Regions from separate parts of the Homo sapiens genome. Here region 2 is linked to region 1. Evidence: fine-mapped QTL for protein levels in blood plasma. A gene starts in region 1. The other region holds a variant in brackets. All regions are shown on one strand. Distances are between the middles of the regions.

Region 1 (15,238 bases):
GTACAGGGGCCAACCCAAAGGGATTCCTACTGGCCAAAGATGGGACCATTTTGAACCCCACAAACGTGAATGAGAACTTCCTCTCTTAGAATGACATTCTGAAATACTGATGCAGGAAATCAGACGAGATCTGAGCTACGCTGTCTGGTAACCTGGGAAGAGGGGGTTAAAGAACTGCTGCTGGCAGAGATGACGCCAGACTGGCCAGGGTTCGAGTTCTTAAAAAGCTGGGTGATGACACCGCAGCAGTTCATTACATTATCTTCTCTTCTTTTGTGTTATGTTTGAAAATTCCCAAAGTAAAACGTTTTGAAAATAAGCAAGTGATAAACTGAAATAAAACACTTCGTGCAGAAGTCACTGCTCCCTGTGGTGTGGCCCGTGCTTTCCCGTCTTCTTCCATCCTCGTTCCTTCCTCCACTCAGGCCACAGCAGCTCCGTGTCACTCCTCCCACAGGCCAGGCATGGCCCACCCCAGGGCCTCTGCGCCTGCTGCTCCCTCTGCCTGGAACACACTTTCTCAGACACTTGCCACCCCTCAGATACCGGTGTGGCTCACCCCCTGCCCTCCTTCTGGTCGCTGTTTCCAATTAGACTTCCTAAGAGTTCCTGGATCACCCTGAATACAACGGCAATCTCCCGCTTCCCAGAACTCCCGCTCCTTGCTTTACTGTCTACACACAACTTATCACCAGCCAACACAGGCATTTGAATATGTGTTTATTATTGGTCTCCTCCTCACAGAATTTAAGGTACGTGAGGCAAGAACTGTTTGAATCCCAGCACTGACAAAGTGCCTGGCTCAGAGAAAGCACCCCAAAATATTAATTAACATCAGAAACACATACAGCACTTATTAGGAGGCAGGAACTGTTCTAAGATCTTCATACAACTCACTTGTGAATGACCCACTGGAACAAGACAGCCCCTCCCACCGCTGTGCCCTTTCTCAGGCCGTCCCCCCCAAGCATCCAGAGCCTATGAGCTCAAGTCCCCCAGTTCCATGGAGTACTGGAATATTAGACTATTTCATCATGAGGGTTTTTCTTCTCTCTAAACATCTTGAGCATTTAGTAACTTCAATACTAAAACTGGCAATCACAATGTCATTTCAAAATATTTGTTCTTATTACAAAAGAACATATTATTATATCATCTTATATACATAATATATAACATAACAGAATATATAATTATATATTATGTATATAACATAAAAGGAACACTAATAATATATTGCAGCAAATTTAGAAGATAAAAAATTCAGTAGTAATTCCTACCAGCAATCAACTACTGTTAAAATTTTCATCTGTTTTCTTCTGGTTCACTGTCTCTAGATCTTTTAAATCCTTCTCACAAATATAAATCTCTTGCTTTCTTTAAAGCTATTAAAAATTTCAAAAATTAATTTTAAATGTGACTGAAAAACAAAAAGCTAAACAAAAAAGAGCCCAAAACAATGGTCATTTTAAAGTGTACTTCACATCTAGTGATTCTTATACACTCCTAGAGTTAAGAATTATTTTTCTAGACTTTTTTCCTATCGCATTATTATTTATTTTTATTTTTTTTGAGACAGAGTCTCGCTCTGTTGCCAGGCTGGAGTGCAATGGCGCCATCTCAGCTCACTGCAACCTCCACCTCCCAGGTTCAAGCTATTCTCCTGCCTCAGCCTCCCGAGTAGCTGGGACTACAGGCGTGCACTACCACGTCTAATTAATTTTTGTATTTTTAGTAGAAACGCCGTTTCACCATGTTGGCCAGGATGTTCTCGACCCCTTGACCTTGTGATCCGCCCGCCTCCGCCTCTGCCTCTCAAAGTGCTAGGATTACAGGTGTGAGCCACTGTGCCCAGCCTCCTATTGCATTATTATCTAGTTTTCTCATGAGTATGTCTCTTCTCAATCAAAATACGAACTCCTTGTGGCAATAACCAAGTCTTATTTTTTGTATCTCGCAACAGAAGTGAGCTGAATACACAAGAATCAAACCAACTGCAAAATAAACTCAGAACATAATCCACTGTTGCTGGCTTCCACGAGCCACTATACTTACCGGATCCTGCAGAAAAAAGGTTTCACCGGAGCACATTCATACCGTGCAGCTGCTAGAAAGAAAGATGCCTGGTCAGTCACTCCCTCTTATCCAGGTCTTTCTCAGTGAAACAATGTTGCACCATTATCAAACAACAAACTATTTTTTAAAAGAGAGAGAGGTCTCCTTGATTAAAATAGAACCCCCTTCCTTCATTTTGAGATCCAGTCACAATACTAGAATTGGGAAATACTAGTATTGGTTTTGGTACTGGAACCGTGAACCTCAGGTATAACAGTGAGAATCGGCTTTATCTCTTCCCCTTACTACTTTTCATAGTTCCCAAACTGCCCATGTTCATCATCTCAAAGGTCAATGTAATGATCCTTGGACACAATTATTCTGGTGGTAATATTCCATCCCATTGTAATAGTCTGGACCTTTCTAAAAAGTTGGGAATTCAGACTATTTTCAGCTTCTTAGCTATACGATATATAATTTTCTTTTTTTCTTTAAGCTCTTTCTTTGGATAAATTTCAAAAAGTTGTGTTCCTAGGTTAAATGATAGAATCGTTTTATGACTTTATTGTGTATGGATAAACCTCCAGAAAACTGTACCAATCTTCAGAGTTTTATTAATGTTTTCTCACAACCCTCATGCCAATGATTTGCTAGCAATTCCATTGATTTCTGCACCCATTTTATTGATTTATGAGGTGATAATTCAGAAATGTCTAAATTTGCCTTAGGAGATGAGGGGACTGAAATTTCTGCCCAGTGTTTGTTGACTATATGTATTTCCTCTGATTAGAGCTTCCTGAATATCTTTTGGGCATTTGTTCACTGAAACAAGAAGTCTTCAGTTATAGGAACCATGGAAAACTGTGAGATGTTCAAAAAATATACACTGAAGGTAGCATAAACAGTGAAAATCCAAAACAACCAAAATATTGAATAAGCAGCCCAGGTCTTGATACTTCTAAGAGACGATCACAGAAGAGTCAGAAAGCATTAATAAAGCACTGAAGATTGGTATAATCTTCTACAGAAAACGGCCTCTACTGTGAGGTCAGTTTGCTTATACCATTTATTCATCACACCAGACACATGAACTCCAACTGCACTCACTAGAAGTCCTGGACCACTGAAAGCTAGACTACGTGATCTAAGACAGCAGACGTGCACCCACAATGCATTTCCATTCCTAGGCTGTAAATATGTGATGCTTGTTTCTAAAAGCGTACTCTGAAGAAGTAATGGTCAGATCCTTCTAAGAGGTTTGTACAAGACATGTTAAATAGAAACATATTCTAATACAGGACCAGAGGTTGACAACAGCTGAGTGGATTGCTTCCTAAGTCCTCTTGATGTTCTATGTGCTCAAAGTAAGGAATCGAAGGGGGTAACGCAGGCATAGCCTATAAAGGGGGTGGCATTAACCAACTGCTCTCAGTATCAATCCTTGAGATTCATAAGGCAAAAGTACAATATAAAGAGTAAACTAGAATTATATCGTGCCTTATGGCATAAGTGAATTTTGAGATCCAAAAGAATTATTTCAGGGCATATTAAGATTTTACATAAAAGGTGATATGGTTTGGCTGTGTCCCCACCCAAATCTCATCTTGAATTGTAGTTCCCATAATCCCCACATGTCAAGGGAGGGACCTGGTGGGAGGTAACTGAATCATGGGGGTGGTTGCCGTCATCCCGTTCTCGTGATAGTGAGTTCTCATGAGAGCTCATGGTTTTATAAGAGGCTTTTCCCCCTTTTGCTTGGCGCTTCTCCTTGCTGTTGCCACGTGAAGGACATGTCCCCGTCTGCCATGATTGTTAAGTTTCCTGAGGCCTCCCCAGCCATGCTGAACTGAGTCAATTAAAACTCTTTCCTTTAGAAATTACCCAGTCTTGGGTATGTCTTTATTAGCAGCATGAGAATGGACTAATACAGTAAACTTGTACTGCAAAGAGTGGGGTGCTGCCATAGATACCCAAAAATGTGGAAGTGACTTTGGAACTGGGTAACAGGCAGACACTGGAACAGTTTGGAGGGCTTAGAAGAAGACAAGAAAATGTGGGAAAGTCTGGAACTTCCTAGAGACTTGTTGAATGGCTTTGACCAAAATGCTGATAGTGATATGGACAATGAAGTGCAGGCTGAGGTGGTCTCAGAGAGAGATGAGGAACTTGTTGGGACTGGAGTAAAGGACACTTCTGCTATGCAAAGAGACTGGCAACTTTTGCTCCTGGCCTAGAGATCTGTGGAACTTTGAACTTGAGAGAGATGATTTAGGTATCTGACGGAAGAAATTTCTAAACAGCAAAGCATTAAAGAGGAAGCAGAGCATAACAACTTGGAAAATTTGTAGCCTGAAGATGCAATGGAAAAGAAAAACCCATTTTCTGGGGAGAAATTCAAGCCTGCTACAGAAATTTGCAGAAGTAACAAGAAGCCAAATGTTAATCACCAAGACAATGGGGAAAATGTCTTCAGGGCATGTCAGAGACTTCACAGCAACCCCTCCCATCACAGGCTGAGGCCTACGAGAGAAAAAATGGTTTTCTGGGCCTGTCCAGGCCCCCACTGCTCTGTGCAGCCTTGGGACATGATGCCCTCCATTCCAGCTGCTTCACCTCCAGCCATGGCTAAAAGGGACCAAGGTACAGCTCAGGCCATAGCTTCAGAGGGTGCAAGCCCTATTCCTTGGCAGCTTCCATATGGTGTTGGTCCTGCAGGTGTGCAGAAGACAAGAACTGAGGTTTGGAAACCTCTGCCTAGATTTCAGAGGATGTACGGAAATGCCTGGATGTCCAGGCAGAAGTTTGCTACAGGGGCGGAGCCCTCATAGAGAACCTCTGCTAAGAGAGATGTGTAAGGGAAATTTGGGTTCGGAGCCCACACAGTCTTCACTGGGGCACTGCCTAGTGGAGCTGTGAGAAGAGGGCCACCATCCTCCAGACCTAAGAATGGTAGATCCACCAAAAGCTTGCACTGTGAGCCCAGAAAAGCCACAGACACTCAATGCCAGCCCATGAAACCAGCCATAAGGGAGGCTGTACCCTGCAAAGCCACAAGGGCAGAGCTGCCCAAGGCTGTAGGAGCCCACCTCTTGCACCAGCATGACCTGGATGTGAGACATGGAGTCAAAGGAGATTATTTTGGAGCTTTAATATTTAATTATTGCTTCAGTGGATTTCAGACTTGCAAGGGGCCTGTAGCCCCTTTGTTTTGGCCAATTTCTCCCATTTGAAATGGGTGTATTTACCCAATGCTTGTACGTCTATTGTACCTAGGAGATAACTAACTTGCTTTGGATTTTACAGGCTCATAGGTGAAAGGGACTTGCTTTGTCACATATGAGACTTTGGACTTGGACTTTTGGTCTAATGCTGGAATGAGCTAAGACTTTGGGGGACTGTTGGAAAAGCATGATTGCATTTTGAAATGTGAGGACGTGAGATTTGGGAGGGCTTAAGAGCAGAATGATATGGTTTGGCTGTATCCCCACCCAAATCTCATCTTGAATTATAGTTCCCATAATCCCCATGTGTGGTGGGAGGAACCCGGAGGGAGGTAATTGAATCATGGGGGCAGTTTCCCCCATGCTGTTCTCATGATAGTAAGTTCTCAAGAGATCTGATGGCTTTATAAAGGGCTTCCTCCTTCACTCGGCTCCCATTCTTCTCCTTCCTGCCATCATGTGTAGAAAGACATGTTTGCTTCCCCTTCTGCCATGATTGTAAGTTTCCTGAGGCCTCCCCAGTCATGTGGAACTGTGAGTCAATTAAACTTCTTTCCTTTATTAATTACCCAGTCTCAGATAGTTCTTTATAGCAGCGTAAGAATGGACTAATACAGAAGGGAAATATCGCAGTAATCAGTAATCAGCAAAAATGAAAAGGCTGAAAAGCCACAGGCAGTGCTGAAGGAAAAATACCTGGGGAAAAAATGGGAAAGACCTGGCAGACAATATTGTGTATGTCCTGTTCACAGCTGTATCTGTATCCGGACTAGTTCTTGACCCACGTGATTATTAAATAAATGTTTACGGAATGAACAGCTAACAAAAGCAGAGAAACAAATACAGACAAAGGTTGAAAATGTGTATTTAGGAAAGGGGATGAGAAATAAAATCAGTATTTTTGAAAGATGGGAAAAGAGATGAGCTAGAAGCAAGCAGGGATGACATGCATGTTTTCTAGAGCTTATGTAAAAATATTTTTAAAAGATGGGGCAATCTATAATTGGAAGAAGAAACACGCAAAGCTACCCTTCATTAAATTAACTACTGGGTAAAAAATTAGAAATAGTAGATAGAATTTCAGATATAAAGATGAAAAAGTTATGGAGATCTGTTTCACAACAATGTAAACATCCTTCACAGCAATGGAGTGAATGCCTAAAAATGATTAAGATGGTGTATTAGGTCCGTTTGCATGCTGCTGATAAAGACAGACCCAAGATTGGGCAATTTACAAAAGAAAGAGGTTTAACGGACTTACAGTTCCACGTGGCTGAGGAAGCCTCACAATCACGGCAGAAGGCAAGGAGGGGCAAGTTACATCTTACATGGACGGCAGCAGGCAAAGAGAGAGAGCTTGTGCAGAGAAACTCCCATTTTTAAAGCAATCAGATCTCATGAGACTTATCCACTATCACGAGAACAGCATGGGAAAGACGCCCTCATGATGCAATTATCTCCCACTGGGTTCCTCCCACGACACATGGGAATTGTGGGAGTTACAATTCAACATGAGATTTGGGTGGGGACACAGCCAAACTATATCAGATAGTAAACTGTATGTGTTTTTTACTACAATGAATTTTTTTTTTAATTAGAGAGAAGGGCTTGGAATCAAAGAGAACGCTGATATATATATATATATATTTTAAAGCTCTTTAAGAGACACTTCACAAAGAATATAAAATAATGAAGGATGACTAAAAAGAAATAAATTAAGATCACACAGGACTGAATGTCACAAAGAAAACTGCAATAGGCATCTTTGAATTATGAAAGAAAAGCATTCCAGAAGGAAAACAAAGTAATAAGACTCATAAGTTTCAGGGGCAAGAAAAACTGTAAGAGAGCTAATGATCTGAATTTTTTTTTTTTTTTTTCCCCAGAAACAGTTTCACGCTTGTCGCCCAGGCTGGAGTGCAATGGTGTGATCTTGGCTCACTGCAACCTCTGTCTCCCGGGTTCAAGTGCTTCTCGTGCCTCAACCTCCTGAGTAGCTGGGATTACAGGCATGCACTACCATGCCTGACTAATTTTTGTACTTTTAGTACAGATGGGGTTTTACCATGTTGGCCAGGCTGGTCTGGAACTCCTGACCTCAGGTGATCCACCTGCCTCAACCTCCCAAAGTGCTGGGATTACAGGCGTGAGCCACCTTGCCCAGCCTAATGATCCAAATTTTATCTCCAAAGTAAAATTTCTCATACAAGGAAATCATGAAGGAGGAAAAACATTTAATTTTAACTTAAAGGAAACAGAGCCTTCATAGCAACTAAACCACTATACAATACGCTGGTAATGAAATAATATTTATGACATATCATCTGTGAAACAGATGTGACAAAATGGAAACAAACGTATTGAGTATGTTATCAGAAGCTTTTAAAATGCTGTTTTCATCACGTGACTTTCTATAACAGGAATAAGAAAAACCAGATAGTGTGCATGTTCTAAATAATATGTTAATTTCTGTACTATTCCTGTAAGAATGAAACTGATCTTGATGAGGAAAGATAGACATCTGAACATTGGTCCTGTTACCTCTTTGGGTCCAGTTGTTCCAGAAAGGAAGCTGAGCTCTGGCAGTGTGCGCGTAGAATACCCTCATGTCTTGAGGTGCAAGCAGGTCAACAAAGTGAGAAGACGCCAGGACATCTTTCTTACGATTCAGGATCAAAGCAGCCTGTTCAGAAATGTGCACTAACCTTCCAGACAGAAATGAAAATACTGCCACAAAGGTATCCTATGAAAAACATTTAAAATAAATGCAAATATTGAGATACTCACTAGCAATATTCCCTGAAAGGTAAATTTCTTCTGGATCTCTAACATGACCAGTATCTTAAAATACACAGGCACAACCTACAAATGCAACAAAACTCCTCAAATAATTTTCTCCAACATGCTTCTTAAATCTTCTCCTAAGACCTGCACTTCACCTACTGAAGGTTCAATTTCTATGCCAAAAAATATACTAGCTTATTCTATGCAGACTAAAATACGTATGGCACATAACTTCTCTGCAAACTGTGCCATACACCTGGGTGGACGGTGTTCTCGTCATCAACGCAGATTCTATGCTTTAAGACACACTGAAGATTCACCTTCTTCAAGAAGCTGTCCTTGACAAACCTCATTACATAAGCATCACTGCTCTAATTTTTTCCATTACACATAAATGAAACTTATTTATAATCAGCAGTTTGTGTTTGCTAGCATTGGCATACTTTCCTCTCTAGCTTTATTTTAAATATCTTAAAAGACAAATATTTTCTTAAGCTATTTTTAAAAATCTCCATAGCACCTCCTACAGTACTATGTACACACCAGTCCATAAAATAAGCACTGTTATAATACTAGGGATTGCGCACGTTCCACTATTACAAAATCTTTAAGTAACAATTATGTTACTTAAAATAAGTAATCTCCACCGTATCAACCAAACATGAAGATTACTCTGTCAAACAAGAAGAGAGATTAAAAAAGATATACTAAAGGTCTCTTCCAAAATTTTAGGAAAAATGACAGCATCTCAACTCACCTGTTCTATAACATCCAGTTGTTACAACTTGAAGTAGTAGGTATTGGAACTAAGAATGATATAAATAGAAATTAACAATTCGGAGATTAGAATAAGGTGCAGGAAATTACTCTGCAGTGTAATTTTTGTTTTCTCTTAATTCAAGAGAGCTTGGGAATGCTAAGGAGCTAGAAGCACCTCATAACCAAAGTCACTGAGCTGCACAGCACACAGAACGGGCTGCTTCTGCTTTTAGATGTTTTCTCTGGCAAGGGCGGAGAAGCTACACCATGCCTCTTTAGCAGTTCCTCCTTTGCTTCTCTCAAATTGTGGTTGCTGAAACGTTGTTATCCTTCTTAAAAGCCTACATCTAGAGCAGGCCCTTAGGAAAAGTCACCCAGGTTGATATGGCAAAATGCATGAATTCTTACTGTGTTTTTGGAAGTGTGTTCTGAAGCGATAGTGGCCAGCTCCTCAAGACTGTACATGCTCACATCTGCCTGAGGTGCTCCATTCTGACTGAGAATCTGGAAAAACTCACTGTTTGCTAAGAAACACAGGGAGATAAACAGGTAGTCCAGTGACAACAGTATCTTTAGGAAACCATTTCATCACTATCAAGCTGGATTATTTTTTTCGGATGAGAACACCTCAGTGCATTTTTCTCAAAAACAGATCATTTTCTGCTTTTACCTAAAATACTGATAGTTGTGCAAACTTAAGATTTGATTTTATGAATTCTGCATGTTCTGGATCACAGGAAGCAAGATACATTTAAGGTACTAACTAAAAATTTCAGATGCATACACAATTTTTTTGCGGGGGGAGCAGAAACAGTACTCTGTCATTCAGGAACATATCATATATGAAGCACTGAGGTTTGTGCTAAAGAGAATATGGCTTTAATGAAATCCCTGGAAATGTCAGAGAGAAAAAGTGTTTACAATGGTTCATTTTTAGTTTGGTAAATTCCTGATATATCATTACTGCATTTTTATCATTATTATTTTTTAGAGACAGAGTCTCGCTCTGTCACCCAGGCGGGAGTGCAGTGGCGTGATCTCGGCTCACTGCAAGCTCCGCCTCCCGGGTTCACGCCGTTCTCCTGTCTCAGCCTCCCGAATAGCTGGACTACAGGCGCCCGCCACCACACCCGGCTAATTTTTTGTATTTTTAGTAGAGACGGGGTTTCACCGTATTAGCCAGGATGGTCTCGATCTCCTGACCTCGTGATCTGCCCGCCTCGGCCTCCCAAAGTGCTGGGATTACAGGCGTGAGGCACCGCGCCCAGCCTCATTACTGCATTTTGAAAGTATGTGTACGGCATGTAAAGGTAACTATTTCGTGGAATGCATTTTTTTCCCATAACTTCCATAGAAGACAATATTTCTTTAAAAGGTCAGCCTTCAAAATGTGCTTATGCTAAACTCTACTCTCTTGCAACACATGAGCAAAACATTGCATAGGTATTATACACTATTATACAGATAAAGTTTTCCTGGTCTTTCACATGTGAACAATTAAGACACGAATGGAATCGGTGTAGATTTGCTCATCTTCCACAAAGCACCAGAAAAAGCTCAAATTATTTGTCTGACTGAGACCCCACTGACCACTCCTCTGGCTGCTTGTATGAGTCCTGGTGCATTCGTAGGATGAAATTTCTCTCCGGCTTGTTTACCTTGAACGCTGTGGACACAGCGGAGAGCATAGTTGAGGGCATCTAGAGTGCTTGGTTTATTGCGTCTCTCCGAGGGGAAGTATTTTTTCATTTCTTGGACAACCATGATAAGTTCTTCAGAAACTCTGTTTCGATCTTGCTGTTCACTGGAAGATAAAAAAAAATTACAACTTCATCCTCTGAAGACAACAGCATCTTGCGGCTTAGGGAACACAAACTGCAAGCCAGGTAAGTTTCTAAGTGCTCTACCGGCATCAGTCCACAGGGTGGTGACCCCTCTTCCTCTAGGTGGGGAACTCGAGGCAAAGCAACTGGTGAATGACAAACATTCTCCACTTACTTTCCCTTAATCCACTTGAGCCCCAACTCAGCTAACTTTTGTAACCACTTTTCCCTCCTGATACTCTTCGGTAATTTTCTTCAGTGTCACGGATCACTTCATCCTACATTGCCCGAGTCTCCCCTTTACACTTTCCCCTGGGCTTGAAAACAAAAGAATAAAAAGATTTAGGTCCCCCTTTCCCTGCTCCAGGGAAGGACAACGAACGCATGGGGCCCTCGGCCTGAAGCCAGCGCGTCACCTGTGGCTGCTGTCCGCCAATTTCCTCTGCAGATGGAACTCGGGGCTCCACCGCTCCCCCGATTCTTCGCCCAGGGCCTCGTCCTTAGCCCCCCGTCTCCCGGGGCCAGGAGCTTCCCCGCGGGGCATCTCGAGGTCTCCGCGGGGCTCCACGTCGTGCTGGGACGGCCCGCAGCCTGCTTCTCGCTCACTTTGCAGTCAGTGACAGACACCGGTTTCTCACTCCGGTCCCCGCCATGGCGTTAGTGAGAACAGGCGGCCACCACGAGCCAGGGGGTCACGCTCATCTCCGAGGAGCTTTTCCCTCCAACATTTTCAAAACCCGGAGCTCGCTCGACTTTCAGGACTCCGGCCTAGGGGGAGGAGACAAGGGTGACAAGGGACAAATGGAACAGACAGTCCGACGCCAGCGGCCCGGCTGGCTGGGGCGCCCCGACCGCGCGGTCCTCACCCCTGCCCCAACTTTCCCGCGCGCCGAGGGATGGGGCCCGGGGAGGCGGGTGGCTCGGAAGCGCCACGCTCCGGGGGCCCCCAGTACCGAGGGCAGGGCTCGCGGGGCTCCTCTGCCGCGCGCGAGTGCCCAGAACTCCCGCCCGGCCGCCCAGAACTCCCGCCCGGCCGCGCACTCACCTGCTGCCCCCGCCCTTGGCCCCGCGCACAGCCGCTCGCCCCCGGGGCCGCCCTCGCGCAGTCTCGAGGCTCGCCGCGTGCCGGTCAGCAGCCGGCGCCGCGCCCCCTGCCGCCGCGTGACCGGTCCCGCCCCCGGGCCGTGCGATTGGTCGTCGGGGCCGACTCCGCAGGCCTCCATTGGCCCTGGGGCGGGGCGCGAGCCGGTGCGCCCGGGTTATATAAGCCAGGGCGAGGGGGCGGGGCCCCCGGGGCGCGTTACATAACGCGCGGGCTCGGGCGGAGGCCGGCGCTCGGCCAATCCCAGCAGGCCGGCGGGCGGGCAGGGGACGGGGTGGCCCTCAGCGGCCTCAGGCCTGTGCCGCGCGACTGGAGTGTCCGGCCCCCTGGCACGGCGCCGGGGCGGAGCCGCTGAAGCCAGCGCAGAAATGATAGGGCCAGGAAGCTGCCAGCCACGTGGGGGCGGGACCCGGGCTCTGTGGGGCGGGGCGGGTCCGGCCCAACCTCCACGTGAGAGGCGGGCGGGGAAGGAGAGGGGAGTGAGAGGCGGGGGCAGAGAGGGGCGAGAGGCGGAGTCGGGGGGCTTGAGTCGGGGTCAGGGGGAGGCTGGAAATGGGGACGGATGGGGGCGAGAGGCGGGGACGGGGGGGCGGATGGGAGCGGGGGTGCCGAGAGACGTGGGGAGCGAGAGGCAGGGGCGGGGGGGCGACGGTGTCGAGGGCGGGGGCATTAGAGGGAGGGAGAGGCGGGGACTGGGGGCGAGCAGGGGCGGCTCAGGCCAGCGCTCTGGGGTCGAGTCCTGGAGTTTGTAGGTGGCTCCCGGCTGCCCGAGCGGGTGTGGGGAGGAGCCCAGGGTGGGGCGGGCTGCCGGCAGCGGTCCTCATCGTGCTTTGGCCGTCTTTCTGGGTTCCCACGGTTTTCACCGCCCGTGACCTACCGAGCCCACCCCAACCGCCCCCATCCTCCGCTAACTCTTTCGGTGAGTGGGGTGGACTTGGAGGAACCGGGCCATAAAGCAGCCCTGGTAAAAAGCCCACCCGATTTTTAGAAACAGATTTTTTATTTTTTGAGACAGGGTTTTGCTCTGTTGTCCAGGCTGGATGGAGTGCAGTGGCGCGATTTTGGCTCACTGCAACCTCCGTCTTCTGGGCTCAAGCCAGTTTCCTGCTTCAGCCTCCCGAGTAGCTGGAACTACAGGTGCAGCCACCACACCTGGCTAATTTTTGTGTTTTTGGTAAAGATGGTCTGTGTTAGCCAGGCTGTTCTCAAACTCCTAAGCCCCAGTGATCTGCTGGCCTCGGTCTCCCAAAATGTTGGGATTACTGGCGTGAGCCACTGCACCGGCCCAGAAACAGAATTTTGACGGTGGAACTTAAAACACTTCCCTGCACTTCCTAAAATTAGATTCATTTGGCAACTGGAGGAAGACAAACGTAAAAGACACTCTGTTTCAGAAAAGAAGTTGTAGAGCCCTTTAAAAAAAATGTCTGAAAGCTCAGTTTAGTATCTCAACATGTTAGAAATGAAAGGTACAGTGCAGAGTGCCGCCCCTCTTCGCTGCCTGGTACAGAAAAAATATTCAGTATTTGTTGGATGGATGAAATTGTATGTAAAGGAAGAGGGGAAAAGTGAGGTGAGTGTTCATGTTAGGTATTGAATAAACCACCTTATATCTTCCAAGCGATACTCTAGGTTGGCTTGCTCTCCTCCGAAGCTGGGTTTTGTCAAACTGCATTCGTTCAGCAAGCATTTATTGCGTGCAGATCTGGGTAGGGACGCTTGGAATCCCAGCGGATAGAACAGTGGCCCAAAGTCCCTGCCACCCAGGGAGTTGACGTTTTATTGAGAAAGCCATACAAACAACCCCATAAACAAGTTCATAAAGCCTAAAGCGATGTGTAGAAAACAAACTACTGGAAGGAAGAGTAACTGGGAGAAAGGTGGAGTGGGGAGGCCAGAGCCTGCTTAGTCAGATCAGCAGGGCAGGCCTCTGGGAAGGCGGATTTCAACCTGAGATGAGAGGCGCCTGCCGCGAGTGGGGAAGGCGGATTTCAACCTGAGATGAGAGGCGCCTGCCGCGGGTGAGGAAGTAGACCCGGCAGAGCTGAAAGTACCTGCAGAAGACCTTTGGAAAGAAGTCAGTTTGCTGATGAGAAACCGAAACAAACTTTATCAGGTCCATTTCTCCCTCAGGGCTTCCTTGCCTGTTTTCATTCATAGCTAACTCTGGCCTTCAAGCCACACCCTGATGTTGAAAGTCTCATGGGCACAAGTCTCTCCGATGTCAACAGCTATACTTTGGTGGAGTACCTTGCTTGGAGAAGAGAGAGCTGGAGAGTCGTGTGACATGAAGTCAGAAAACTAGAAAGGACCAGATCATCGTGGGACCTGTAATTCGGGAAAGGGACTTGGATTTTCCTATTGTAAACATAAGCAAAAGTCCTCTTCCACCCGTATTATATTGTTTCCTAGGGGTTCTACGATAAGAATGGAAATACATTCATGAGGAAAAAAGGATCTACAGGAACAGAGCCATGTGTCTGGGGATGTCCCTCACCTATCCACTCATCTATCCCAGGGTCCATGCCAGCAGCCATCTAGTCTACCACAGACGGGGTCGGCTCTGCACATCACTTTAGAAAGACCATCTATTTAGGGAACTCCAAAGCCACATCCTGAATTTTGGTAATTGTGTAAAAGCCAGTTTCCTCCTCATCGCCTATACTAAAAAGCACTTTTCACAAGGGGAGCGGTTTTCTTCTGTTCACTGGGGTATGCGGAAATGCTGGGTACCAAAAGGGTAGAGTACCTAGAGAGGGGCTGGTGAGAAAAGGGGGAGACAGTTTCGGGGCTTCTAAGGGACAGGTATGGGGAGCAGCAAGGAATGGCATTTTTAGGACTCGGACCAGGTGCAGCTATTCCTCTACAAGGAGCACAGGTGCCACAATCATGTTTATAAACACTTTATTTAGGTGATTACAGTGGGTAAGTTCCCAGCTAAGTGCACAGATAGAAGCGAGGTATTTCTGGGTTAATGCAGGAGCCAGTGGGTTACATGGGTCTGGGCACTGTGGCCAAGGGGCGAGTACCAAGGTTTCTGAGTCAGACCCGGCCAGAGACCCTGCGCTGAAGGTGGACTAATGTCCTAACACTGCCAGCTGCTTTCTCCTCACAGCTGGCCACACCGCAAGGCATCTCTTCAACAGTAAATCATTTCAGCGATGTTAAGGGAACAGACGTTAAAGAAATGGAAGCTGTGTCCTGGTGCGCCTCAGCTGTTGCTGCTTTATAAGTCATAATAGCATGTGAACAAGAGTTTTAGAATATTCCAGTAACAATGAGCCACAGAGCGATAAAGTCTGTGTCTTTCTCCCTCAGTGCCTCCTTGCCTGTTTTCTTTCATACCTGAATTCCCATCTTTAAGCTGTGGATCCTGATGTTGAGTCTCATGCATACAAGAAAAGTTTTTCCGATGACAAAGTTTCTGCTTCCAGCATTCCCATCAACAGCATTCTCTGCAGTTGATGATATCAAAGCAAAGGTCTCTGGTTGGC
Region 2 (15,238 bases), 22 kb after region 1:
GGAGTTTGACAGTATCTACTTTGTGTGTGTCAATGGACAACCATTAGAGATGAATTCTACAGAGAGGCTTGCTCAGGCTGGACAATTAGTAAGAAGACAAAGCATTTTGATAAAAAAATCTGATCAGAAGAACTGGTCTTGGCTTGAGCAATCTAAAGACCTAATCCTTAACATTGTATTATCCGATTTTATAAAGTGCTTCTTGGGGAATGCACTCAGGGAGTGATGTTCATGTTTTAGGCATATGATTTTTTATTTCTCCTGAGCTAAATGTTATGAGCAGGTTTCTATCACAGGAAAACAAGCGTGAAACCTAGAAAGTCTGACTTTTGCTTAGATTAGATCTTCCAGCACAGCAGGGAGCAAAGTTTCGTTACAATTATGATACAGTCAGAATTTGCTTTACATTCACACTTTGATGATACTTTTTCTAAACAGATTTCCAGAGTACTCATATTTGTTTAAAATTCATATTTCCAACATTTCAGAGCAATACCTCATCTACTTGATTTTGTGTCTGCTGAAGTCTTCGATTACTGCCAGTGGCAGCAGTTGGACCTGTAGACCTGGAACATGTAAAGGCATGAGCATGAGTACATTACGATTCCAAATACATTTTCTTAAGTATAAAGATGTTACTCCGGGACTCTCACTGTTAACAATCTCTTACATTAGAACTAAAACAGAAAAAGAAATTCTTCCTGAAGCAATGAACGAAAGTTTTAATTGCATTTCTTCTAATTTCTCTATAATTTCCAAGACTGTCCCACCTACTAAAGGGACAAATGTTAAGCTTTAATAGGACCTACTTTGTATCCCTGAAGTATCTGATCCCACGATAGGTAAGCTCTACTGTCCTTTTTTGAAACTTGTTCTAAGGCACACATCTGCTTGAATGTACTCAGTACTTTCCTGATCTTTTCATTGTGGAAGGAACTGTTTTCATAGTTACAAACAGTTACAGAATGCCCTTTTTCCAATATGGAAAAATAGATTAATTTACAGAAACAGAGTCAGGAACACTGGGATGCAGGGAGTGGGTGGTGTGAGTGGAAAGGTGTGTTGAAGAAATGCCTCCTCTTTTAGGAAGGTACTCTTTCTTTTTCCCCCTCTTTTGAGAGACGGAGTTTCGCTCCTGTTGCCCGGGCTGGAGTGCAATGGCGCGATCTCGGCTCACTGTAACCTCCGCTTCCTGGGTCCAAGCAATTCTCTTGCCTCAGTCTCCCAAGCAGCTGGGATTACAGGCATGTGCCACCACGCCCGGCTAATTTTGTATTTTTTAGTAGAGACGGGGTTTCACCATGTTGGTCAAGCTGGTCTCGAACTCCTGACCTCAAGTGATCCGTCCACCTCGGCCTCCCAAAGTGCTGGGATTACAGGCATGAGCCACCGCGCCCGGCCCAGGAAGGTACTCATCTTTTAAAATCTTCATCAAAGGCTTTATTTCTCCCCATGCAGATCTTTCTTAACCACTCTGACTCTGAAGTCATTATTGGCTCCATTACTTGGAAAGTATCACTTTGGTTTTTCAGGTATAAAGTCCCGCCTCCTCGAATAGATCACAGGTTCCTGGGTCTTCTTACTCTCTTCTCTGTATCCTAGATAGCACCTAGCATGTGCCTTGGTATACAACAGTCTGATGGGCTGTTTGAACAGTCACTTTACATCTGTCATGTGTCAATGACCAGGGCTACAACAGATCTCATCACCGTCCTCACGGAGTTTAGTATCTGGTAGATAAGTAAGGACCATGCCGTGGCGCTAGACTCTTTCCATGCTTTTCCTCCTTTAACCCTCATAACTCTCTGAGGGGAATATTACTCCTATTTTACAAATGAGTAAAGTGAGGTTTAGAGAGTCAACACAGCTGGCTGCAGGACAGCTTGTTTTTAGATCAGGTCCTGTGTACCTTGGCTCTAGATCTTAACCACTGTGATCTATTGGCACAGCAGCCTCAGCAGGAACATTCGAGGGGGGTCCCCAGCTCCTGGAAGAAACCCGGGGCTTCCTCCGACGGTGAGCAATGAGCAGAATGGAGGTGGAAGAGGGAGTCCTTGTGATTCTTAACCATTAGCATTCTCTGAGTCTTACCACTGGAAGCAGGGGTTTGCAACGTGCTTTCGCTTAAGAGAGCGAAGGCCCACGGTTAAGTGATCTTTCCAGTGCAGATGCCCCTAGCTAGGCAAGGAGCTCTTCGGCCCACAGGGGCTCAGGACAGGGCCGAGGTCCTTTCTTTCGCAACTTCTGGGGCCCAGCGCAGCACCGGGCCGAGAGCGGGCGCTCCCGAACCAGGGCTGTCGTCCCCATTCCTCTCAGGGACGTCGGGGACTAGAAAGGGAAGGGGCGAGGAGCGGGCTGCGGGCGGGCAGCTCACTTCCTCCGGGAAGCGTCTCGCCGCCCCGCCCTTGCCCCTTCCGCGTCCGCCCGATGGCCGCGGGACCCGCCCGGCCCGTCTGCAGCCCGCGACCCAAGGGCCACCGCCCACCCCCAGGCCTCGGGATCCCCGCGCAGCCCCGGCCTGCGTCCGAGTGGCGGCCGGCGGCAACTGGGCAGTATGGCGGTCCCAGCGCGAGCTGCCGCCTGCGGGGCCCGAAGCCGCCCGCGTCGCGTAGCGTCACTCACATTTTGGCAGCTGCGGCGGCGGCAGCGGCGACGAGAGAGGGTCAGCAGAGAAGCGAAGTTGGGACCGGAGGCCAGGGAGATGGGTGGGACGGCGCGGCGCGGGGCAAAGACGTCACTAGGCGGAGCCGGGGGAGTGGGCGGGGCGAAGAGGGGGCGCGCCGGAAGTGGGCGGGGGCGTCGTGGGTGGGTGCGTCCAGGGCGGGGTCAGAGCGAGACGTCCCCTCCCCGGACGAGGTCACTTGGGAACTTGAGGGCCACAGGGGTCCCAGGGCGGTCCGGGCTCTGAAACGCAGAACGCAGGTCAATACAGCTCCCTGTCCGCACCGCCGTCCGCGCTGGCGCTTGGGGACGTGGTCTGTAAACGTGGTGCATTAGCCACTGGCGAGGGACTGCGTGGATAAGTGAGGGTGGGGGCAATTCATGTTATTCTGGGCTCGGGACCATTTCTAACAGTATTAGAGACAGATGACTGGCTTCTGCTGAGTGTTCCAGAGTAACCTAGTGATCCTGAGGGCACCATGTTTCTCTAAAGTAGTTGAAATAGGAAGTCCATTTCGGGTATTTGTCACATGGTGTTGGGTGAGGTTCCCGCTCATGTTTTCATCGGTGACACAAATATTTGTCACTGCAGATCATATTATAATCTGCTTACGAGAGCCTTGGCATCAAGGCTGTAGTTCCTTTATTTCTGTATTTTCAGGCCCTAGCACAGAATAGGTCCTCAGGTTTTGGTCGAAGGGAGGGAAGCACAAATCTGAACGCAGTGAGTTACCTTGTATATATTTGTTACTGAAATATTCCTACCAACATAGTTACCTACACCAAAAAATAAAACACTAATAGGTCATTGGTGGGTCTCTTAGATGAGAAGTGAAAAATACAGTACTTAAATACTATGCTGTTTTTTCCAACTCTAAATAGAATACTTTGAAAAGGGAAACGTTAGTATATATCGAATAAACGAGTGTCACAAAGGCGGTGGGATTTGAGCTGGGTACTAGTGGAAAAGAACTTTCCAAGTAAGGGTTGGGCAAACACCATGAACAAAGACAGCAGTGAAAATGGACGCAGTGTGCACAGACCACCTAGAGGGTGCAGGTTGGGTACAAGTGAAAAGAAGACTGAATAAAGAGGATAAACAAACAAGAAAAATGTCATTTAATTGTAGTGGGCCCTGGAAACCATTGACTTACGGACGTGGGAGATCCATGATGCAAAATTTCTCTGGCAGTAGTGGCCAGATGGATTAGATGGAAGAGGGAGCACTAGGGAGATAAGGAGAGGCTCTGCAGTGAACGGGAAGGGAGCGGCGATGACACAATACTCAGAAAGGACGACGTTCGTAATCTGCTGGAAAATGCCTTTTAGAAGACTTTAGAGGATTGTAACTGAAAAGGTGAATTAAATTAATGTCTTTATCTTTCAAATAATTGCACTGCCTTACACAAATGATTGACATGTTGAGAGGTGCCTGGAAAGATAGGGGAAAAGCTCTCTGAATGGTGGCTGGAAGACATTTTTTCTTTCATGGACCTAGCTGAAACAATGTAACATTCAATGTCAAAACATTACATCTGGATCAGAAGGAAATCCTTGACATTATTACATATGTTTTGAAACATGTGCCCATCACCTTAGATTTCACTACCCGGTCATATTAAAGCAAAACACACACGTAGTATGGGGAAATTTTCTTCATTTTTAATTTACAGCAGAAAGAATATAAAGCATTCAGAAAACATTTTCCATATTTTAAGGGCAATTCAAAACATTTTGCATGGTTTCCAGCAGCTGAGTTCTTCAACAGATCCATTGATTCAATGATGCTTTACATGCACAATTACAAAAATAAAACTTACAAAAAAAGAAGACATCTAGACTAGTTTTACATGCAAGTCTCAGGGACCCCCCATTGGGCGCCAACTACTGTGTGGAACTGCCATAAGCGACCGTGCAGCCAGAGAGGGGTTCGTATTATTGTCTTTATTTCGTTCACACAGTACAGCTGATTTCGAATGGGTAACAATAGCAATTAAATCTTCAGGAGATAGAATAAGATTAGCTATTAATTTTATAATGAAATCCTACTCCTGGCACTTGGGAATTCAGATTATCCAAGAAAGCTGCGCTTACCTATCATCTTATATTCGAAATTAAGATTCATAACCAAGAAAAAGCGGTCAGAAATGCTTCGTTTCAGTGGAAGTGCATTTTTGCCTCGCCTAGGATTCACAGTTGTACTGGTAGGTTACACTGGTAGGCTTTAAACCTACTTCCTATCCCCTCCATGAGAACCCTCTTAATTCTATGGAAGTCTCTACCATCTGTCATTTTCTAACGTATTCAGCTAATAATGTAACATGTGAAACATTAAAAAAAAAATGTGAGGGTTAAAGCAAATCCACTGAGGTCATTACTCTGGTTAAAACATCAGTTATTTGTACCATAATAAATGGAATAAAGATATCTAAATTCAGTATTAATAGAGGATATTCTGAAAGAGCTGGCTTTCACGTTCTATTCCCATTTATGAATGCAGTTGTGTTTGTAAATTACTCAGTGTCCTCCTATAGGTCAAATTGTGTAAAATAATAGGTATCTGGGGGACTGCAACAGCTGCAACATAACCCACACATTTAAAAACAAAATGGAGTCAGGTCAGTTTACAAATGTACAGGTGGCTACTAGTTGTGGGGCTGTCACTGTTGTCAAAGCTGATCACAAGCAGAAAGACATATACTGTACAGTAATTCGAGGTTGGCAGTGAAAGGAAGTAATTAAAAAACAAGTACAATTATAGAAAAGGCACCAAGAGCACTGACCCCAGTTTTTACCACAATCTTTTTGTATCTACCTTCCTTCCAAAGACACCAGTTTAAAAGCTTATTTGTGAATATTTTTAGGCTTCACAACAAGCCTTGAGTTTTAACTCACAGTTGGCAGCCAGAACCAAGAAAAAACATCTCAGCTTTACACCAACTGATCCTCAGACGTAACCTGGGAATTTTAAACTGGCATCAGCAAATACGAACTTTATTCTCTCAATTTAACATTAGCAGTTTAATTGTTAAAAACATCAGATTTCTTTGGCTCCTCATTATGTGGAAATAGTAATATACCATGCCGTCTCTAAAAGACCAGTCTGCATCTTTTTCATTTTTTTTTTTGTGCAATTTTATTATATTTTCTGATTTCCAGCAGGAGATATGGAAACGTGACATTTTTCTACTTTTCATACTATTTCTTTTGTCAGGTTTTTTTTTTTTTTTTTTATCATTCTAAGTGTTCTTTGTTGGAGTGAGTGGATGGTGTTAAGCTACATACTGATTCATCTTATGATTATCTGTTTTGCAAAAGTAACTTAATTTTCTTAAGCAGTATTAGCATTCACATTACTTGGCACCATTGGCAAAAAAATTTTAAATAAAATAAACTAAACTCCTGGTAGCCAAAATTAAATGTAAACATATCCTTTTTTTTTTAAGTAATGTTACTCTGCCTTTTTTCCTAAGTCTAAATACAGTAGCTCTTTTTTTTTTTTTGCAGTTTAGTCATGCTTTAGCAAAATGTTCTCCTAAAGAACATTTAAAATAAAGTACTCTTATAGTGAAATAAAGTTTTTTTGTTTCATTTTACAGACCATAGCCACTAATGCTTTGCTTTTGTTCATTTCTTTTTTCTTGATTTCATGCACATATCTCTGTTTTAATATATACAATATATACAAACAGTACATCCACATTTTTCTCGCTCATTCAGACAAAACTATACAAATAATTTTATCTTGCCATGTTATTGACCTTTGTGAATAAAATATTTAGCAATTAATATAATCCCTTTCAAATATTTTCTCACTTTTCATTTCTACCTTCTATATATACACAGAAACTGCTCAGTTTGGATGAGATATAGCCAAAAACATGGAATTTACTGGCCAGAACGCAGCACCACACTGATCGTTTAGGTGGCAAATGTCCAGGCAAGGTTCATGATTCCTTAGAATTACTACAGCTTCCAAGGTTACTAAAAAAGGCTACATGCGTTACCAATTCTTAAGTAATTCTCATTGCACATGAAAGTAAGGCAAAAAAATTAAAGTGCTGAACATGAAAAAGGGGACAAGATGATTACTACCCTCGCAGGTTCTTGGAAGGTGGTGGGGACAAGAAAATAGTTTAAACTCTGTGAGCTGCTTCTCATTATTTCCCATGCATTACCCGTTTACCACACACCTGCCCCTCTGCAAATTTCCACAAGACATTAAAAACCTGCAGATTTCAAAAGTTGCATTAAATGTGCTGTAGAGATTAAAACAAACAAACAAACAAACAAAAATAAACAGTGAAGGAAATGAGAACACACGGACCCAATAAAGATTTTTGTATGATCTAAGCCCTCCACTGAGAATCAGTCCCAAAGATTCAGCTTCTTGGAAATAACCGGCAGGTGCAGGAACAGCATTCTTTTTTTGTTGCTAGTATAGCCCCACCTTTTCTTATCTATATTTTTGGTATAAATATTTGTACAGTTCCACACGATGTTTGAATACAGCCCTATATGAGAAGGAAATGGCTTCTTCCTGAGAAGAGGAAGCCTCTTTCAATTCCTCCTGGGTGTCTTGATTTCCCGTGATCCAACAGAAGATTGAGTTCCAAGATGTCTTGCTGATCAAATTAAAAGTTGTCCATGAAAGTGCAAATGCAATGACCAAAACATTCCTGTTAAAATCCTGCAGCTGATCTCCCCAAAACTGCAGAGGGATTTTGTATGTGTGTGTACGTGTGTGTGTGTGCGTGTGTGCGTGTGTGTTGTTGTTGCATGTCTCTGCTAAAAACAGAAATGAAAACAGTCTGAAAAGCAATGTCACATTGCTAAGGGATGCTGCTGTATGTCTTCAAGTTCCTTGGCCTTTTTCAATTCTTTCACTCTGGAAGAGAAACAAAACAAAACAGCAGGCGATAACTCTATAGTGAATTGTGACCAAGTAAAGGAAAGGGGTATTACCACTCCCTCTGAACTGAAAAGCCAAGACTAAAACCGTTTTGAGGATTGACGGCAAAAGAAACTCCTGTGAAATTGTTGGGGAAAATATTCAAAGGAAAGACGTGACCCTACTTAAGGTGAAAAAAAAA[T/AT]CATTCTAAAGCTTTGCTCTACATCGAGCGCTCTAAGAATAGAGCAAAATCAAAGTCTAATGTATTAAATCAAGTGTGACAATCACATGTTTATCTTAATAAAAATTTAACTATTCAAATAACTTTCTTTTTAGTCTCGTGGACCACCATTAATGTCCTATCACTCTGTATGATGTAAATTAGGGAAACTGTACATGCATTTATTTAGTTTTTTTTTTTTTTTTTTTGAGACAGAATCTCGCTGTGTTACCCAGGCTGGAGTGCAGTGGCACCATCTCGGCTCACTGCAACCTCCGCCTCCCGGGTTCACGCAATTCTCCTGCCTTAGCCTCCCGAGTAGCTGGGACTACAGGCGCCCGCCACCACACCCGGCTAATTTTCTGTATTTTTTAGTAGAGACAGGGTTTCACCATGTTAGCCAGGATGGTTTCGATCTCCTGACCTCGTGATCCGCCCACCCAGCCTCCCAAAGTGCTGGGATTACAGGCGTGAGCCACCGCGCCCGGCCTATTTAGCTTTTAATATATCTAGGGATTAAGCTACTACTGCTTTGTTCATAGACTCAAGATTGTTAGCTTTCTTGAACCTAATCATACATCTGTACAACTCTACTCCTTCACACAGGTTTTGTGGAGACTTTGATTTTTATAATTCCTTACTTTCCTCCCATTCCACATTATAACTTAAAAAGACATTTAGGTTCCTCCTCCCAGTGATCCCAGATGGACAGCCATAGGGTGCGATACTGATAAGGTACTTCGTTCTATTCATCAAACATACTGTAGTAAACAAATTTAAATAACATTGTTATAGACTGAGTCATGGAAAGTTCACATCAGCAAATTACTTATTAATTATCACTGCCAATCTGTAATTTTTAATATAAAAATCAGTCTCAGTTTTTTTGGATATGGCCACCTGATGTAGATGGGGTGCTGGGGAAGCTGCTGTCTGCTGTAAGAGTATTTCTCTACACTGACAATTACGAACCTGCCTTAATAGCAGAATGATCAAATGTAAGGCAATGCATGTGGTGTAAGTCACAGTTTGTGGTACTGCATACCATATAATAACATTTGTTTCCCAAAAATGGATGTGAGAGGCTGATTTAGCCAAATAGGAGCAACAGTTTCTTAGGACACCATACTCTACTGCAACAGCATGATCAGGAAAAGGTGGATTTGTCGTGGTGCTATACAGAGGGCTATAATCTCAAATATATTTTTCTGATTCTCTAAGAGGCTCTCCTATTATCTTAAGTTATACCAGTAAAGTAAAACTTTTTTTTTTTTTTGAGACGGAGTCTAACTCTGTTGCCCAGGCTGGAGTGCAGTGGTGCGATCTCGGCTCACTGCAACTTCTGCCTCCTGGGTTCAAGTGATTCTCCTGCCTCAGCCTCCCGAGTAGCTGGGATTACAGGCACGCACCACCACGCCTAGCTAATTTTTGTATTTTTAGTAGAGATGATGTTTCGCCATGTTGGCCAGGCTGGTCTTGAACTCCTGAGCTCAAGTGATCTGCCCACCTCAGCCTCCCAAAGTGCTTGAATTACAGGCATGAGCCTACCAGGCCCAGCCTCAAGTAAAACCTGATAATACTCAGGCAGAAAGAAAATAGTGTGAAAAAACCAGTAATCAGTTATTGCTATATTGTATAGGTTGAGAGTCTGGAATGGCACATATGGTATAATAGCAATTTAAGAAAACATTTATATTTACCACTTCCAAGCAGAATCATTTCTGAGTATTCTGCAAAGTTGATACAATCTCTTCATAGAGAAGATGCTCTCTTTTAGAAGAAAAGCTTTATGATGTTATCAGTAATACTAAAAAGAATTATAATCTTTGAAAACTTGCTTACTTGTCTGATTTACTTACTACATATACCAAGCCCTAGCTTGGTCCTAGTGTGATTTTTATAAATGACAGTGACAAACAGTGTATCTCTAAAACTGTTGAATCTTTTTTTGTTAACAGGCACAGTTAGAATACATTGCTATGTTCATGAGTAGATCCAAATATCATTTAGTTTTAAATTTTATAATTAAATATACCATGGATTAATTTGGGTCATATTACAGTATAGAATTGTACATCACTATAGGTCCCTAATTTTGGACATGCATACTTGATAAATAAATGGCTTTTTAAAAATTGAAACATGCTATAGTCTGTTCAATTTTTAAACATGCAATATCTATACTAACATCCCTTTGGCTGGAAATGCAAGGCATGCACTGATGCCAACTTCGCTTCTGGACATGCAATATCTGTACTTGTGCAGACCTATCTGCTGAATTTCTGCAGCGTGTGCATGCCACTTCAAATGCTACATTTTCTTTCTGCACTAGCACAGACCTCATTCACAAATATGCGACAGTGACTCCATCACTGATGAGATGTCTATAATTTGAGGAATTCTGAACTCAAAATCTGATAGCATAAACACGACGATGTTATACATTCACAATTTTTCTCGAATGAACAGGAATGCTTTAGAAATATTAAGTTCATCATTGAGATGAAATAAAAAGGAGAGTGAATTATAAGCCAGAAATGTTTTATGTGGTTTCATACCAAAGAATCTATAATCAGCTGGTCAGGGGAGGTATACCCTAAACATTTTTCTTTTAGTTAAAATGGTCACATTTGTTTTTGCAGTTTTTTCAGTTTCTTTCAGAACTAATTAAAAAGTTAAGTTTTCATAAGGTTTTAAAGTTGTCAAGTAAATACTCTATGAAATTAGTGATGGCCTCACAGACCACGAGGTTAAGGAGAGGTGCATGTCCACGTACAATGTCTACGCAGGAAAAATGAGAACAATGCAATTTTCAGATATATTTTCCAGGCTTCCACAACTCCTGAGTTAAAGTGGAGAATTTAGTTCTTAGCTTCATGATAAAGTTATCATAGTATGCTAGCATTATACATGACATCAAAATGACTTAAATGGCACAAACATTTTTTACAGAAAGTCGTTCAAGGAGGAATTAGAAAAAAAAGGGGAAAATGAGAGAGAAAAAGTATTAAATTCCAATAGCTATACAGGTTACTTAATATCTGTTACTTTATGTAGTCCTCACAACACTGCCATTAGCTCCAATTTGTAAATGCAGAATCTGAGATTTATAGGAATTAAGCAATCTGCCCCAATTCACACAGTTAATAAATGGCAGAACAGGGAATTGAGTCCAGGTTTGTCTGACTTCCAAACCTATAGTTTCAACATTTCACTGTCTCTAAAAATATCTCCCAGGATAACACAGAAGTATTTTAAAAATCATATTTTATTGTTTTTTCTAAAAGACTTTATAAGAAACATGCATTTGGAAAATTTCCATGGTATGAGATGAAATTAACAACAATTACATTTTCTCAATTCTAAGGTGTCATCTTTTATAAGACACTATATTGATTTTATTAATAAAAAACATTCTTGGTGGGGGAAGACCCTCACATAAAATGTACTTATTGATTTTACAACACAATTATTTAGAATCCTAAAATGTGTGAAAAGAATGTGTGTAAGAATCAAGGGAGATTTTTAGCTTTATTCTCCAATTTGCAATTTATGGACCATATAGATGTTAACTTACCTCTGAAAGTTAACATGAAATTGAGAGGCTTACTATCTGCCCTAGTGAAATCATAAATGAAGTTTTATGTTACTTGAGAGTAGATTATTAGGATGAGACAGTGGGGCTTAATTTTTGTTTTGTTTTAAATCAAATGTCAACTGGATAAAATAATGTTTGAATGTTATATTGCCTCCAAAGAAACAGAAAACAATTATATCACCAAAGTGATTTAGAATAACATATACTAGAATTTTAAAACAAATTTTAAGAAATAGATGTTTCAAATCAGAGTGTTTCAAATGGCTAAATTTATGATCACCTTGTTATTAGTTAAGGACATGAATGATTATTCAGGCAGATGTTAAAAATAAATCTTTACCAATGAGAAGGATACAAAATAGAAGTTTAACCATTATTATCTCTGGGTGATTCTCCTTGGTTATTTGTATTTCCAGAATTCACTACAATTAGTATGTGCTGCTTTTGTAATAATAATTATTCCTGCTTGTTAGCTTTTATTTTCTCCACTTATTTAGAGAGAGGGTTGACCAGACTGGAGTGCAGTGGAACAGTCATAGCTCACTGTGGCCTGGAATTTCTGGGCTCAAGCAATCCTTAGCCTTAGCCTCCTGAGTAGCTAGACTACAGGTACACATCACCATACCTGGCTAATTTTAAAATTTTTTTGTCTAGACAGGGGATCTAAATATATTGCCCAAGCTGGTCTTGAACTCCTGGCCTCAAGCAATTCTCCTGCCTCAGCCCCCAAAAGTGCTGGGATTACAGGCATGAGCTGCTTGTTAGTCTTAAAAAAAAAAAGTGAATTAGATCGTTTTCTATCTGTCTGTTACTAATCTGTCTTACAAATGCTGTGTTCATATTATATAAAAACAACTGAAAAATTCATTGGAAGGAAAAAAATTCAATTTTGTAGACTGAAACCAAAATCAATGGACTGAACTGGTTTCATTAACATTACCTATGTTGTAAGCAAATTTTTCAGTATACAAACTTGGTAAATATAGACAAGAATTTTTGAAATTGGAATTAGACTTGAAAATCCAGGACCTGTGGTCACCATATCTATAGAACTTGGAACACAGGTGCATGATAAACTTTTGTTATGTTACACACACTTAGCTAAGGGTTACTGAGTGCTCAGTTCTCTTAAGGAATTACAACTGTTCGACTCATTCAGGGCTAAGAAAGAACTGAATCTAAAAATGTCCAGGCTATCTAAAAAAAAAAAATTATAACTGCACTTACTTCTAAATTCACTTACACAGAAGACAGGCAAAGCAGTCTTCCCTGAGCTCATAGAGGCAATGCAGGACAGAAGCTACAGTTCCCACAGCGCCAGTGCTGCCCTCAGGAGAGCTGTGCGGCCACATTTCTGACTCCTATCAGTAACTTGCAAAGTAGAACTCTTATTGGCTCAGACTCACAGTAATTAGAATAGCAAGACTGACCTGTTACCATTCAGCTATTAACATTAAAGACAATCCCAGTATTTCCCCAAGCATTCTAGGCTGAGAATAATCACCACTCTGGGATACCATTGTAGTCTCAATTCCCCCTTCCCAAAAAGTTGCATCGTAATGTACTGAAGTGATGTCGTAAGCAACAGCACTGAAAGCCAGCAAAAGCCCACAGGGTTTACTTCCATCAGACGTCCAATGATCATTTATGAATCAATGAAGTAGGCCTGCTTCAGAAACTTGTAGCAAACAATGGCTCCATGGGTAAAGCGTAAGGCAAAGCTGCTTCATTACATCTACTCAGTGATGCTCAGCCAGAGAAATGTCTCATGAGTCAGTGGAGTTCAGCGGGAATATTCTCGCAATGCTGGACGTCAAAAATAGACAGGGCAGCGGATGCGGCTTTCTGATTATTACCTGTTGCTTTGAGAGCTGCAATAGCTTGTGGGGAATTTAGGAAAAGAGAGATCTTGCCATTTTCCAGAAATCTCATTTGGATTGCAAAACAAAAAAGACAGAGAGGCCCAATAAGAATGACACAGAGCATGTTGTCTGCAATTTAACACACACCACTGTGTTCCAAAAATATTCATTTCCTAAAAGAGGCAAGTGAGACAAAATTACTTTGAAGATTTAAAATACATCCATGATGACACATCCCACATTCACGTCTTACTTCTCATGAACACATCGGGCCACTTAGAAACTATGCCTCATGCCAAATTGAGCTACGGAAGTGTGAGAACACATTTGTTGACCCTAGAGCACTGTTTACTTCTCAGTACACTTCCCCGCATTGTTAGAGAACTGTCCCTTGGATAAAAGTGTACATAAAACAGCCAAAAGTGTAAGCGTAATTTTCAGAACTTGGTAATGACCCAGTGCAGCTATGACCCGGGGCTGTTCTCAGAAGCACACAGCAGAGCTGCTCTGTTGAGACCCCTACTTACCAGCTTCTGGCAAAGTGTTTGGAAACCCGGTTCTCAAATAAAAAGAAAATATGTTGTTTGAAAATATGTGACTAAAAAGTGTTATTTCTTCTTCCTCCAATTAAGGTTTTGTTCCAGTAAAATAACTGCACCTGCCTTTACTGAACACAGGTGACTAGGCCAGCAGTTTATAAGAAATAGGTTAATTAAATACTAGCATTCCCACTGCTTTTAATAACACCCATAGTGATTGTTACAGTTTATAAAGCCTTCTCACAGAAATAGTGTCTCGTATCGGGAAAGGAGGAATTTGTCTAGAAATTGCTTTTCAAAGAGCGGTGTCACTCATCTATGAGAACACTTTCTACTATCCACGAAAAATAAATGTCTTAGAGAAGTGGAAAGACATTTTCTGTCTAGAAAAACAGGCATTTTAGTTTTTATTTTTTTAGGTCAAGCAAGTCTCAATACCTTGAGGATAAATCTGTTATGTAACTGAACTACCTGCTAACATATGAGGTATCTTGGTTTTTCTCTATGCAACTGAATAATATCCTGTTAGATATACTCAAAATCCAAATGAAAGTATCTTTTCAGCATATGTACTTTAAAAGTTTCTTAAACCTTAAAAATCCTTCAGTCATTTGCTGAGAAATCACTTTTGTTAATTTAAATAATCTCTTTGTGTAGAACAAAAGTTCTCTCCTAAACACAGCTATTGTGTCCAAGACAAAAAACAGAAAAACAAAAAACAAAACAACCAAAAACCCTGATGACAGTATCGAGAGTTTGTTAATTTCACTTTAAGTTACTGGATAAATTAAGAGGTAGGCCTGAAGGAAAGGGGGATAAAAGTGAGCTGTACTCAGTGAAAAATATTTGGTGCTTTTTCTTAGCCTTCCCCAAGCAAAGACTAAACATTTCAAGACACAAGTGGTATTTTCTGATTGCTCTGCTGCTGGAATTTGTCTGTCGTGTCTTAATTCTGCCTTTTTAGATCTCCCCCTGCTCCACTGACGTAGGAGTTTGGGTCAGTATTAGTGTTTAACAAATACTGTCCCATAAAATTTAATTCTGTAAGTTTCCAGATATTATTTTTCTTTTCTTTTCTTTTCTTTTCTGGGACAGGGTCTCACTCTGTTGTGCAGGCTGGAGTACAGTGGCACTATCATGACACACTGTAGCCTCGACCTTCTGGGCTCAAGCAATCCTCCCACCTCAGCCTCCAGTAGCTGGGAAAATATTATTTTTCAATGTATAAACCATGTTTTAAATATGGAATACTTTACAAATTAACAAAATAAGTATATTATCTTTTTTTTTTTTTTTTTTTTTGAGACAGAGTCTCGCTCTTTTGCCCAGGCCGGACTGCAGTGGCGCTATCTCGGCTCACTGCAAGCTCCGCCTCCCGGATTCACACCATTCTCCTGCCTCAGCCTCCCGAGTAGCTGGGACTACAGGCGCCCGCCACCGCAACCGGCTAATTTTTTGTATTTTCAG

Direction of the effects. Alleles are on the strand shown, and positions count from the first base shown. The strength of an association depends on the size of the effect and on how common the allele is.
In carriers of allele T in region 2, the plasma level of the protein whose gene starts at base 11,773 in region 1 tends to be lower than with AT alone (strong association).

The links. PIP is the posterior inclusion probability: the model's chance that the variant is causal. Protein levels are from antibody-based Olink assays in UK Biobank. Linkage for the fine-mapping came from a reference panel and not from the study's own genotypes, which makes the PIPs less certain.
Region 2: its variant is fine-mapped to the plasma level of the PER3 protein (UK Biobank, PIP above 0.99).

The regions. Positions count from the first base shown.
Region 1 is chr1:7,780,826-7,796,063 of GRCh38, reverse strand. It overlaps PER3 (period circadian regulator 3), which reads right to left and starts at 11,773. Exons shown (of 22, transcript NM_001377275.1): 1 at 11,688-11,773; 2 at 11,059-11,410; 3 at 10,478-10,623; 4 at 9,228-9,343; 5 at 7,818-8,019; 6 at 2,056-2,107. The coding sequence starts at 11,186. VAMP3 (vesicle associated membrane protein 3) reads right to left here. Exons shown (of 5, transcript NM_004781.4): 5 at 14,632-15,238. RefSeq lists a silencer at 11,698-12,307.
Region 2 is chr1:7,758,770-7,774,007 of GRCh38, reverse strand. CAMTA1 (calmodulin binding transcription activator 1) reads right to left here. Exons shown (of 23, transcript NM_015215.4): 23 at 4,302-7,549. The coding sequence ends at 7,517. VAMP3 (vesicle associated membrane protein 3) reads right to left here and starts at 2,712. Exons shown (of 5, transcript NM_004781.4): 1 at 2,623-2,712; 2 at 497-566. The coding sequence starts at 2,624. RefSeq lists silencers at 2,349-2,578, 2,543-2,785 and enhancers at 3,019-3,068, 2,812-3,508. The variant T/AT (reference allele first, on the strand shown) is at 7,755.